Homo sapiens: one gene and its partner. The protein of the gene in region 2 interacts with the protein of the main gene of each other region in a biochemical or structural test. Each region holds a gene or a part of one and is shown on either strand. Other genes may lie near its edges.

Region 1 (7,426 bases), on a different chromosome or scaffold from region 2:
GACTTTTGTCTGGGGTATATAAAGAATCCCTAAAACTCAAAAATTTAAAAAAAAAAATTAGGCCGAGTGTGGTGGCTCACGCCTGTAATCCCAGCACTTTGGGAGGCTGAGGCAGGCAGATCACCTGAGGTCGGGAGTTCAAGACCAGTTGGACTTCATCAAAATTAAAAATTTTTATGCTTCAAATAACACCAACCAGAAATGAAATGACAACCATAGACAGGGAGATAATATTGTAAAATATATCTGATAAGGGACTTGTGTCTGGGATATATAAAGAATCCCTAAAACTGAAAACTTTAAAAAAAAAATTTTAGTCCAGGTGGCTCACACCTGTAATCCCAGCACTTTGGGAGGCTGAGGCAGGGAGATCACCTGAGGTCGGGAGTTCAAGACCAGCCTGACCAACATAGAGAAACTCCATCTCTACTAAAAATACAAAATAAGCCAGGTGTGGTGGCACATGCCTGTAATCCCAGCTACTCGGGAGGCTGAGGCAGGAGAATCGCTTGAACCCGGGAGGTGGAAGTTGTGGTGAGCTGAGATTGTGCCATTGCACTCCAGCTGAGGCAATAAGAGGGAAACTACATCTAAAAAAAAAAAAAAAAAAAAAAAAAAAAAAAAAAGCCCAATTTGAAAGATAAAGGATTTGAATAGACAGTTCTCCAAAGAAGATATACAAGTGACCAATAAGCTCCTGAAAACACACTCAACATCATTAGTCATTTGTTAAATGCAGTTCAAAATCACAATGAGATATCACATTGTACCCACTAGGATGGCTATAATAAAAAAGACAGGCAATAACAGCATTGGTGAGGATGTGGGGAAATCAGAACCCTCATAAATTGCTAGTGAGAATGTAAAATGATGCAGCACTTTGGAAAACAGTTTGATAGTTTCTCAAAATGTTAAACATAGTACGATATCACTCAGCAATCCCACTCTTTTGTGTCTACCCAAGAGACATGAATGCATGTCCACAAAAAAAAAACTTGCACATGAATGTTCATAGCAACATTATTCATAACAGCCAAAAAGTGAAAACAACTCAAGTGTTCATCAACTGAGATTTGGATAAACAAAATGTTGTATACCCACACAGTGGAATATTATTTGGGCATAAAAAGGAAAGAAGTACTAAAGTATTCTATGCCTTAGTTCATTTGCTGTTGCTTAAACAGAACACTTGAACCTGGGTAATTTATAAAGAAAAGAAATTCACTTCTTACAGTTATGAAGGCTGAGAAGTCCAAAGTCTAGGGATCACATCTGGTGAGGACCTTCTTGCTGGTGCGGACTCTCTGCCAAGTCCCAAGGTGACACAGGACATTACATGGCAAGGTGGCTGAGAGTGCTAGCTCAGGTCCCTCTTCCTCTTCTTATAAAGCCACAAGTCTCTCTCTTGTGATAACCCATTAATCCATTAACCAATTAATCCATTAATCCATGAGTGGATTAACCACCTCTGAAAGACCCCACCTCTCAGTACTGCCATATTGGAGATTAAATTTCAACATGAGTTTTGGAGAGGACAAATATTTGAACCATATATTGTATGATTCCATTTGTAGAAAATGTCCAGAAGAGGAAAATCTATAGAGACAGAAACTAGATGAGTGGTCATCTAGGGCTGGTAGGTGGGGACAAATGAAGAATGATACCTAATAAGCATGGTGTTTTTTGGGGTGGTGACAAAAAGTGTTAAAAAAAAATAGATTACAAATTACATAATTCTGTAAATACACTAAAACCCATTGAATTGTACACTTTAAGTGAGTGAACTTTCTGATATGTAAATTATACCTTAATAATTTTTTTTAAAGAGAGGGAATAAAATGAGAGAAATCTAAGTCAACAAGTATAGACAAGTCTTCCAAGGAATTCCTTGCATTCATAAAGGTTTGGTTTTAATTACCAGCATTTAACTGCATTTGTTGTAGCAAAGGAGGAGGATGCTCCACTTCACGTAGAGACCAGGGAAGTGCCATTGTACTTACTTCTCTGTATCTCCAAGTGGATATTTTTCCCAGTTCTCTGATTTTATTTTCACTGTTAGTATCAACCCCAGAGCATATAACCCAAGAATCTGTGTCTCACTTAAGCTTACTGATCATTTCTGCTTCTTTTCTTTATTTTTCTGTTCACATTATCCTGATAGGATGCAGGGTGAAGAAATAATCAGCCTCTGTTCATCTTATTAGAGAAATAAATACCTGTGTATATGAAGCAAGCAAGGCCACTGAGTCTTTGGGGAAACAGAGCAGGGAGGTGCCCAGAGGCATTTTCTGCAGAGAAGGAAGAAAAGAATAAACAAGTCTTCTGCCAAAAATGCCTGGAACTTAAAGCGATTTCCTCAGCCCAAGATCAGGCTGTGTGCAGACACTGACAGTGAACCTGATCAGTTGCTGCTGCTCCCTTGATTAAAAGCATGTAGCTTTCTCTCTTGTGAAATTCACCTCTATAAATTCCACCTGCCTAGGGATTCAAACTACATGGAACAAGTGCAATTCCTCAGAGTGGCAACTGGCAGAGCTCCCAGGAACAAGGTAGAACTACACAATGTCCCAGGCATCAGAGGCATAGATTGCCTGAGTCAGGGAGAGTGGTCTCTGTGACCTGACACCCCACCCACAGTGGGAAGGAAAGCTGTGGGTGTGTTATCAAGGAGGCCTCCACAAGGGGCTGGAAATTCCTGGTTTTGTCTTCCTCTTGGAATGAGACATTTACTCTAAGAGAATCATGGAAAAGTACAAACCACAGAATCATAAACCACAGAGGGAGAAGCTACCTCGTAGGTCATTCTTATGCTGGGCCCAGATACCCCGATAAGCAGATGTTCTCTTCTCACCACCCCTCCTCGCCTTTGCTTGCCCACAGCCATTGCCAGGACTCTTCCTCAGGCCCAGAAAGGCAGCTGATTCCTGGTAGGAGGGCGCTAAGAGTAGAAAGTAACTACCATTGTCAGGTCCAGATCTGTTCCCAATCCCTTCTCACTCCTCCTGCACTCTAAAACCACACCACAGTTCCAACTCTTTCTGAGTCTGGAATCTTTGAGAGTGCCGTCATGTCCTTCTTCCTGTAGCCTTCTTGTCCACCCCAGATGGACTGACCCTCCCACCTACATCCATGAGGCCAGAAGGCAACAAAGACAAGCGTGGACTCTGGCTCCCGCCGAGGTACTCTGTACCCCGTGGCTCTCGGATTTTGCATCTACCACATGCCACAGGCTTGCGTCCATCCGACCTCCCTAGTTTCTCATCCCCACTTGAACCTGATGACTGATTCGCCCTCCTGGCTACGCTGAGTAAGCCACCCACTTGCCAAACCTCAGACCTGGTGTTGACGCAGTAAGAAGGCATGAGGCCCATGTTGCCAGAACATTCCTAATTGTTTCATTGTTTCCTTGTAGGATGTGGTTTCAAGTCCCATCTTTGTCTCTTTTCTCCTGGCCAGGTTGCCCTTGGTCAATATTCCTTCATTCACTCCAGCCACTCAGCACCGTGATTAAGAAAACAGGATGTGAGATTAGATGATCCAGGCTCTGCCATGAACTAACTAGCTGTGAGGCTTTAGAGAAGTGTCTTAACCTCTCTGAGCATCCATTTCTTTCTCTATAGCATTAGGAATATTAATAGTACCTACCTCACAGCTTTTTTGTTGTGATAATACCAATAAATGAAATAATCTTCATAAAGCACAGAGGCTTGAATGTTCACTCTAAGTATTTAATATGTGTCCTCTACTATTTTATTTTACAATTATCATTCCTTAATTCATCATATAATTACCAAGCCTCATGCCAGGCACTGAGATATAAATATCCCCTTTAAAGAGTGGTCATGTCTTAAATCCAGGAAGAGCTAGTTCATGTTGGCACCCAGGGTAGGGAGCGAAGCCCAGGGCCACAGCACAGAGGCAGAGGAGAATAGACACTGACCACCAGGAGCTGCCCGGGGATGGTGACAAAAGTGCCTTCCACCTTTCCGCATCTCTTTCAATACCACTGCAACTCCTTGAGTAAGGTGGGCACCACACAGAAGAAGGGGGATGGCAGAGGGGCAGTGAGAGGTCCCCAGGGAAACACCCTCTTCTTCTTCCCTGCTTCTCTGACAGAGCACGGCCATGCCTCTGCCATGCAGGAGGGTGATGTCCTTTGGGGAGGCCTTGTTGAATCTGTCTGGGGCTGTTCCGGAAGTAGGAAGGGCGGCTGGGGGTGGGGAGACGGCAGGAATGTTCTCCTGGCCTGCTGGTCTGTGCCGGCGAGTGTGCTGAGAGGAGGGCCTCTGGACATCAAAGGTTCCTTTTGTCCCCTTCCGAGTGGCAGGGCAGCCCGGCCCGGGCTGCTGGCGATGACTCAGGCCTGGCCCTGACGTCACCCACGCCCGGCCACTGGCCTCCCTCTGAAGCCAGGAAACTAGTTGGGGAGTGGCACTCGCAGCTGCAGCAAATCTCAAAATAAAGAGGCAACGGCCTTTCTCTTCCTCTCCATCTCCCTATAGCACACCTTTTATTTCTTTTCTTCTTTTTTTTAAGCCTCACGAAAGATTTTACTTGTAGATCAACTTTCAAAATGTAGGAAGTCAGAATGGGTGACATCATCAGAAAAATATGTGGAGCTGATCACAAGAAGTGAAGAACCCAGAGCACGAAAGCGGTTGTGACTCCTGGGCCCAGGGAGTTGACAGCGTCTGGGTTTCAGAGGAGCCAGCGCCTCCGAGTAAGTGAAGGCCCACTTTTGGCCCCCCCTCACTCAGCGCCCTTCACCGTAGGGCGCCATCTTGTTCCCTGACGCCTACAGCTTGCCAAGCCCCAGCCCAGAGTTGGGAGTAGGGACTGCATTTGGGAGACCCTCTAAATACGGCCCCAAAGGGATCTGATATCTCTCTCCACAGGATCAGAAAAGAATGCAAAAAAAAAAAAAAAAAACAATACTAAGACGGAAACCCTGGGGAGAACAGCCCAACTGATGCCTTTCCCTGTCAACCCTCTTGTTTTGCCTCCTCTTCCTCCCCTCACCTGAGTATTCCGTTTCAGGCTGTCAGAATGTTTGTTCAGAGTTCTGGATTGTTTGCTTCCTAGATCTTATACTGAGCGATCAGACATAAAAATAAACCCTGTTCTAGGCAAATACGTGTCCTGTGCCATCAAATGGTATTTTCACACTTAACCTGGTAAAATATGACAGCCCTGGTAAAAAGATGTACATAATTGTGCTGCCTTTACTGAGCACGTTTCTGATTGTTCTGTGTATGAACCTCCATTATCTTATCGCCCTGTTTACAGAGGACTTATTTTCATTCCTACTTGTGCCATCGTATCTGGGATGATATTAAGCACAAAGACACAATGTGTCTGTTTTAACTTTGTCTAAAAACTCATAGTTCTTTACAAAGCCTATAATTTCACGACCTCTGGAAGTTCCTACCCAAGAAAGTTAAGTTCCCAAGAGAAAAGTTTTGACACATACATGAGAACAGCACGTAGGCATAGAAATCATACCCTGATTTTCCCGGCTTCTAAGTCATCCCCTGAGTCAGCATCTAGTCTTCGTATAGCTGACGTACCAGGGGAGATCTGTTCTTCAGAAATTCTATGTTAAAATGACTGGGAGCGGGGAGGCGTAAGTCTCATTTTAAAGGCAGTAAGGAAGCTTGTCATTTACTGGAAAACAGTGGCATATTCCTTTGTAAATGGACAACTCCCTTTGGAAATTAACTATCACACACTAAAATATCTGTTTTATAGGCCTTATGTTTTACTTTTTGTTTTACTTTAATATATTAGGTTGTCTTGAAGTGAGGCTCTGCTGTAGTCCTGTTCTTCTGGCTCTAAGATCTGAATGTTGTGACCACTAATTTGGTAAGTGTCATTTGTCCCCAACAGCTACTTAAATTTAAGTCTCCCAATTCTCCTTTTTTAGTTTGTGGTAAGATTCAAAGAAAAGGGGAAAGGGCACAGAGATTTCTGTACACAATGATTACAGCTATATTAAAAAGGATATTAGGATAGGCTAATTGTTATAATAGAACCCCAAATCTATAATGGCTCAAACACAATAGTTTATTTCTTGCTCATGTAACAGTACAGGTCAGTGGGGCAACTGTCTTTCATGCATTCATTCAGAGACACAGGTAGAGAGGGGCTTTGCCTTCTGCAGCATGTGGTTTTCAAGGTCGCCTAGGGGTGTCTCCACTCCTCAGTGCAGTAAGAAAAGAGCATGAAAAAGTGCACATGGGAGTTTTTTATGGGCTCTGCCTAGAAGTGGTGCGTGTTACTTCTACTCACATTCCATTGGCTAAAACTCCATCACATGACCACAGCTAACCACAGAGGAGTCTGGGAAATGTAGTCCTTGGTGGAGCAGCCACTTAGCAGTGACAGCTCTGGAGGGGTTTCTGAAGAAGAGGTAGTTCTCTCTGGCACAGCACATAAAAGAAACTTGGAGATACTCAAGGATAAAGTTGCATAGAAACAGTGGGAGAAGTAAACAATTATCCACATTTAGGTTTTCCTGACTGACACTCTTAGGTAACATCTGGCCATGAGGGCAAGATGCAATGGATGAGATTTCTCAACACCTCTGTCCATTATGACCCTAAGCATCATGTTGCCCATGGCCAGTGAACCATGAAGGACATTTTCCTTATTTCCTTTTACTTATTTTTCCTCTCAGGATCCTCTTGGTCTAGGACTATACTGGCTTTCTCTTCTTCCTGGATCTAGTCATATTAGTTGGAATTGTGACAGAATTCTGCTCCCCCAACTATGAGCCCCAGTGGTCTATAGGAAAGCTCTTGACTTCCTTAGCTCGTAGTTTTCTCTGCTACTGGAGGCTTTGGAAATGTATCCTACAGGATCTGCTCCAGGTCTTGGGACATTTGATCAGGGTGAAAATTCCCGAAGGTTAGACCTTTAAACCAAGTTATTAAACTGTTTTTTCTTTTCTTTTCTTTCTTTCTTTTTTTTTTTTTTTTTTTTTTTTTTGAGGCAGAGTCTCACTCTGTTGCCAGGCTGGAGTGCATCGGCATGATCTCAGTTCACTGCAACCTCTGCCTCCCAGGTTCAAGTGATTCTACTGCCTCAGCCTCCTGAGTAGCTGGGACTGCAGGCACGCACCACCACACCCAGCTAATTTTTGTATTTTTAGTAGAGATGGGGTTTCACCATGTTGGCCAGGATGGTCTCCATCTCTTGACCTCGTGATCTGCCGGCCTTGGCCTGCCAAAGTGCTGAGATTACAGACATGAGCCATAGCGCCCAGCCGAGAAACTTTTTTTTTCTTTGAGACAGGGTTTCACTCTGTCACCCAGGCTGGAGTGCAGTGGCACGATCATGGCTCACTGCAGCCTCAACTTCTCAGGCTCAAGCGATCCTCCCAAGTAGCTGAGACTACAGGCATGTGTCACCATGCCTGGCTAATTTT
Region 2 (7,021 bases):
GCACTTTGCATTTTCCCTATTATAGCTATTAACATATTTTATGGCAACTACATTATTTGCTTCTATATCCCATTAGACAATCTTATTTATTGCCATATTCCCAAAAACATAATAAAAACAGGTCCACAACCTCTTATCTGAAATCCTAAGATTCCAAAAGCTATTTTAATTTTTAATTTTTTTTAAGATGGAGTCTCGCTTTGTCTCCCAGGCTGGAGTGCAGTGGTGTGATCTCAGCTCACTGCAACCTCCGCCTTCTGGGTTCAAGCGATTCTTCTGCCTCAGCCTCCTGAGTAGCTGGGATTACACGCATGTGCCACCACGCCCGGCTAATTTTTGTATATTTAGTAGAGACGGGGTTTCACCATGTTGGTCAGGCTGGTCTTGAACTCCTGACCTTGTGATCTGCCTGCCTCGGCCTCCCAAAGTGCTGGGATTACAGACGTGAGCCACCGCGCCTGGCCCAAAAGCTATTATTATAACAAGTTTTTTTTTTTTTTTTGAGACGGAGTCTTGCCCTGTTGCCCAGGCTGGAGTGCAGTGGCGCGATCTTGGCTCATTGCAACCTCTGCCTCCCAGATTCAAGCCTCAGCCTCCCGAATAGCTGGGACTACAGATGCCCGCCACCACGCCCTGCTAATTTTTGTATTTTTAAGTAGAGATGGGGTTTCGCCATGTTTGCCAGGCTGGTCTTGAACTCCATACCTCAGGTGATCCGCCTGCCTCGGCCTCCCAAAGTGCTGGGATTACAGGCATGAGCCACCTCGCCCAGCCCAACAAAGTTTTTCATTAAGTTGCTGTCAAAATGTGGTTGGTGGGATAACCTAGCCCAAACTGACTAAAGGCTACTTATAGTCTTTATTTCTCCCTTCAGTATAAATATTCATATTTTACTGTAGAAATATTAATGTGTTCAATTGTAAGTTGTTGTCTCAGACCCTGCTATAGAGATGTTGGTATATGCACTGCCTTGCTTTTCTTAAATCCAAACAATTCTCAATCCCAATGCATATCTGATCTTAAGGACTTCATATTAAGGTTTACAGGCCCTACAGTATTTGTTTTCAGCAGGAAAATTTTACAAGTAGGTTACATTATGGAACAATGATGTGTGCTTTGTGAACAGGCAATATCTAAAAGAGTTGAACAGAATAGGATTCTTCTGAATGTCTAAATTTGGCATTTTTAAGTTTGAAATACAGATTCCACTTATGCTTGTCTGTGTAATAAATATTCTCTTTCTCATCTACAAATACCCAAATATCTGCAATTACGGAAAAGACAAGGGAAAAGAAGACAAACTAAATAGACAAATGAAAAGTACAATCTCCCTTATGTTAAAAGGGCCATGGATCCAATGGTGATTAAGTAAGATCACAGAAAAAAAACCTGAAACGACAGGTACGCCTGGATATAGAACTTCATTTTGGATATATGACTTTTTGGTTTGTTTGCTTTTTGGAGACAGGGTCTCATTCTGTTGCCCAGGCTGGAGTGCAGTGGTGCAATCACGGGTCACTGCAGCCTCAACCTCCTTAGCTCAAGTGATTCTCCCACCTCAGCCTCCCAAGTAGCTAGGACTACAGGCATATGCCACTACATCCAGCTAATTTTAAAATTTTATTTTGTAGAGATAGGGTCTCCCTATGGTGCCTAGGTTAGTCTCCTGGGCTCAAGCAATCCTCTTGCCTTGGCCTCCCAAAGTGCTGGGAGTACAGGCATAAGCCATTGTGCCCGGCCCCTAAATTAATATTTTAAGCGAGTATTTATATTATCCATAATTGTAGTTTACTTAAACAAAAACTTATGTACAGACCAAGTCTGCTATCTAAATTTGGTGAGTATCACAACCATTTGGGGACCCCTTTGAAAACATGGATTCCCTGACATTAGCTTTGGGGATGCTGATTCAATCAGTGTGAGAAGAGGCCTAGAAACCAGTATTTTCCAAAAGCAGCCAGATTTGGCACCACTGCATTAGGAGATTAAAAAAAAAAAAAAATCAAAACACAGATTCTGACCTGTGTCTACCACAAAGACACATGCATAAACAAAGTAAAAGGTGAAAGTGCCATGTTCAGATAAAATTCACAACAGGTTTTATGGGAAATTGTTTCTACTTCAGATCAGATTATATTTCATCACTTGACCTAAATGACTTCACAATTTAATATGATACATCAAAACAGAATTCTGAAAAACTTAAATTCTTACCTAAATTGGCATACATTACAAACAGGTTGAAATACTGCTGTAAATGACGCCCATGCTCTGAAACTTCCCTTCTCAAGAGATTTAGTACTGCTCTTAGTAAGTGATCACTCAAGCTTAAGTTGTCATAAGCCTGTAAAGGATAAAACATTACCTGTTTTACAGCAACAAGGTATATGTATACTTCTACTTGCATAAAAAGGACATGCACATATGCTGATACAGGCATACATTTATGGAAGGACTGATCACACAAACTAAACTATTTTGCTTCTTGGGAAAGGGAATGAAGATCAGAGGCGGATTTCATTATAATTTTTTACACTTGTAATTTTTTAAAAAAATCTAAGACTATTTAAAAAACCTTCAAAATAGGAAAAAATCTACTTAACAGTAAACTTATAATTAAGCTACTGCATGTAACCGAACAGAGAAAATTCTCTTACATTTTTAAAGAGCCAATAATTACTATTCATTGCCATGCAGTAATATTAAATGGAACTCACTGACATCATATTGTGTGTTTCTGTTAGGTAAACATATCAAGTGGATGCACATATGCTTGTGACTTCGACTTCCAGGAAACACAATTTATTTGTAAACATCTCATCATTTAGAAAGAAAGCTGTGCAATTACCTGACTAGAAGGTCCAGGAGAGGCAAAAGGTGAAGGACATGGCCCATCTTGCAAGGAAAAATGTGCAATAAAGACTATAAGTTTTGCAAACGCACCCCTCACTTCTGCACTAGGGCACTCCAGAAGGTATTCGGAGAAGCGATTTGAAACATTAAAAAGGACGTTATGAGCAAACCAAAAACGTACATTCTTGCTGTGACGAAGGAGAATACACAATGCATCATACCTAAAATAAAACAAAAAAACCTATGACTATTAAGTCAATAACTTGTTCTCTATAGTAAAAGGATGAGTCTCATTGAACCAAAAAAAAAAGACAAAGATCTTCCTCTACTGCTGGAGAGAACCAGCAAAGGTTGCTTCTAATATTAAAACAATAGATAAATACTATGACTTGGTCTATTCTCTCAGAGTTACCAAACAGGTGAAAGCTTGTCCTCTAAAAATCCATTAACAAACTCTTCCTAGATTCAATGACAAAATACCACCCCCTTATCTTGACATATTCCTGAAATGAGTAAGTAAAAATTATTAAATCAATGTATCATAATGGCCTCTATACTTTCACAATTAGAAACTTAAGAAAACCATTTTAATTTTTTACCCTTTTAATCGGTGTCAGAATTCAATCTAGGTAAGCTAAAACCTAATAAATTTCATAAGTAGCTTACACTTTTCAGTCTCATCTTGTAATCTTTGGTTTTGTTTGAGACAGGGTCTTGCTCTGCTGCCCAGGCTGGAGTGCAGTGGCACAGTCATGGCTCACTGCAGCTTCAACCTCCCAGGCTCCAGCGATCCTCCCACCTCAGCCTTCCGAGTAGCTGGGATTACAGGTGTGCGCCACCATACTTGGGTAATTTTTAAAATCTTCTTTGAAGAGATGGGGGTCTCACTATGTTGCCTAGGCTGGTCCTGAACTCCCGAGCTCAAGCAATCCTCCCACCCTGGCTTCCCAAAGTGCTGGCATTACAGGTGTGAGTCACTGTCCCCCAGTCTCAGCTTGTAGTCTTTGGTGCAGGGATGTCAAAGATATGATACAAGGTAATAGAAGCAGAAGTCAGCTTCTGAATAACAAAAGGCCATGTTTAGACTAAGTAACTATTTTAATATGATTTCTCTATTGTGACCCAGAGTTTTTATTCTATATTCCAAACTTCAAACAAAATTCTCTTGGTTTAGAAAAACATAAAGCAATCTATTAAAGAAGCAAACCAAACATTAGTATAATAGGAATGAAAATCCAAAGCAATGTACCAATCACTGGCAGAGCCACGGACTACTTTCTTTGTGTGAAATCCTGTAGTAAAGAGGAACCTAGCAGCAAGTTGAATACTGATCATAGTGATTTCTTCTGCTTCAGGCAACAGGTGATCTTGCCCTATAAATAAAATGCAGATATAAAAACACATTTTTATTTTCCAACCCCATTTTCAAACAAGTCTGTGTTTCCATTAATTTTGAGAAGTCCTAAATTTGTTAAGAACCCTTCTCAGGCTACTTTAATTTAGACCCATTTATTTTTTTATTTTATTTTTTTGAGATGGAGACTCACTGTCACCCAGGCTGGAGTGCAGTGGCCATCAATTTGGGTCACTGCAACCTCCACCTCCCAGGTTCAAGCGATTCTCCTGCCTCAGCCTCCGGAGTAGCTGGGACTACAGGGAGTAGCTGGGACTACAGGTGCATGCCACCATGCCTGGCTAATTTTTATATTTTTAGTAGAGATGGGGTTTCACCATGTTGGTCAGGCTGGTATTGAACTCTTGACCTCAGGTGATCCACCTACCTCGGCCTCCCAAAGTGCTGGGATTACAGGCGTGAACCACCACACCCAGCAAATTAGACTCATTTAAAGTGAAAACATTAATTTTATGAACTTAAACATGTTGACGCCTACTATAAATTATTCTTTATTACTAAGAAGCTAAACTCTCTTGATACTCACCGGGAGGAGGGTTTAAGTAAACGCCATTACATGTAAGCAGTTTTTTCATAAACTGAAAATACTCCATACTGTACTGCATTCGGTTATGCATGAATTGTACGTTCTGTTTCCGTACACTTCTCTCAATGGCTGATGGCATAATAATCTGATGAGGTCTGGTGGTGATAGCAAGCTCTGATATATATCTTATCAACTCATCATCTTGGTCTATTGTGTCCATTCGTTCATAAAAAAGTATATAAGCATTCCACCACCTTTTCTGGCGCCTGTATGACATACGCTTCATCATGTGATCAAACACTTCTCCCATGTACTCTCCACCAAAACACTGGTTTTTCATTTCTTCGTCATCATCCATTTTACATTCTGTTACATCACCATCATCAAATTTATACCAGCGATTTCTCTCACCATCTCCACCATTCCTTTGGATGATGTAAGAATAATAATGCCCCCCACTCGCTTGACCACTGTGTACGAGCACACCCACAAGTCTGTATTTTGTGCTTCCTGCTGTCTCACTTTCAGACTGCTCACTCTGTTGTATCAACTGACTCTCTGGGTTTACATTATCCCCTTCCAGCTTTGCGACACCTGCAACTGTGTAAGGTTCCATGTCCAGCTCTCGAGGAAATTCAAAATAATCATTGAACTTGATTGCACATTCTCTTTCCCAGTCATAGTCAAATCGCTTTAGTTGTATAGCAAGAACAGGAGGTAATTTTTTAATCAGCAAGCGCTTTACGGTATCAACCTAAAATAAACAAGACAAAGTTACCAGATGTTCTATTAAAATCCACAGGAAAAAAAAAAAAACCCCAAGCAAACTTTTAAATGATATTAAGACTTATCTGAATTTTTAAGTATAAACAAATACATGACAATGAGCATAATCAAGATAATCCTATCAGCTGATTTAAATGCTGAAATTAATAATATGCAAATGGTAAATTGTTGACTGGTTTCTGTCATTGTTATCTAGCCATTATTACCTGTTTGATGTTTACTGTTGTTCCCACGAAGGTGGTTTCCTATGCACAAACCAAAGAACTACAATAACAATAAGAGTAGCTAATATTTGTTGGGTAATTCAGATGCCAGGTAATATATACTAAGTGCCGCACAAGTAAAAACATACCGAATCCTTACAACCTTCTCAAGTGTGTACTACTGAACCTTAAAAGATGAAAACTAGTAATCACAGAGAGGTCAAGTAACTTGCCTCAGGTCTCAGGAGCTGCAGGTGGCAGGCAGTATGGCTTTACAGCCCACAATCTCAATCTTTAAACTTCAGGACTTCTCTAAGTGGTGCATAAGGCCAAAACAACACAAGTGACTTGAGGGTGAAAGGGTTTGGGAGCTCCCAAAGATACACCTTATTCATTACTATAATGCGTGTGAATCATCTCTCTCAAAGAACTGCTAATAAGTTTCCAAAATAAATGGTTTTATAACATAGGTGATAAAAGAAATCTTATGGGCCACTTGACTAGTCTAAAAGAAATCTTATGTGGTTCAATAAAGTAATTAATGGTTTCAGCAAATGTTTTGGTCTTGACAAGTAATCCTGGACATGACAGGAGAAATGTTTTCCTCTATCAGCTCTGTATCTTTGAGGGGTTCAATGGCAATTTGTTTCTCGGTAGAGATGGAAAGTGTCTGTGTAACTTATATAAGAGAATGTGCTATCACGTTATGACTTTTAAAATTATTCACTCTTATTTACCTATTTTTATCTTATTTACCTAGCCCCTTTGGCACTACTTTTTTTCCTTCCTTGCCAAACCTTCTATTAGTTATCATATTGACTACTTCTCTGCTACCACTATACCAAAGTAGGAGAAAATAAAAATAGGGTGACTTGTGAGGATGAACCAAAAAAACCAATTTCTTCTAAATCCATTAAATGTAATCAAAATTAAACAAAACTGGACAGCCCGTACCTTTTTATTGCATTTTTCACAATGATATGCATTTGCACCTTCTAGTAAATCTCCTTTGACATACTGTTCCAAAGAATCAAGAAGATTTTGGTGATTTCTAATGTCTACGTTTAGGGTCGTAAAAGATTCTTCACATTCGTACCTAAAAACGATTTAAAAAAAGGATTTATCCCTTAGTTTTGTAAACATTTTAGTTATGGACTTAATGTAAACTACATTTGCCTTTTTTTTTTAAATTATACTTTAAGTTCTAGGGTACATGTCCACAACGTGCAGGTTTGTTAC

Evidence for each region. The genes of interacting proteins can lie anywhere in the genome.
Region 1: the proteins of USP9X (region 2) and ZBTB38 form a complex in vitro, tested with the Homo sapiens proteins (one study listed by BioGRID).

What each region holds. Positions count from the first base shown.
Region 1 is NC_000003.12:141,364,085-141,371,510, forward strand, and holds the start of ZBTB38 (zinc finger and BTB domain-containing protein 38), read left to right. Parts: upstream 1-4,419; 5' UTR 4,420-4,720; intron 4,721-5,787; 5' UTR 5,788-5,862; intron 5,863-7,426. UniProt on the Homo sapiens protein: Transcriptional regulator with bimodal DNA-binding specificity. Binds with a higher affinity to methylated CpG dinucleotides in the consensus sequence 5'-CGCG-3' but can also bind to E-box elements (5'-CACGTG-3').
Region 2 is NC_000023.11:41,214,425-41,221,445, reverse strand, and holds part of USP9X (ubiquitin carboxyl-terminal hydrolase 9X), read right to left. Parts: intron 6,879-7,021; coding exon 6,737-6,878; intron 5,548-6,736; coding exon 4,794-5,547; intron 4,227-4,793; coding exon 4,103-4,226; intron 3,075-4,102; coding exon 2,849-3,074; intron 2,345-2,848; coding exon 2,215-2,344; intron 1-2,214.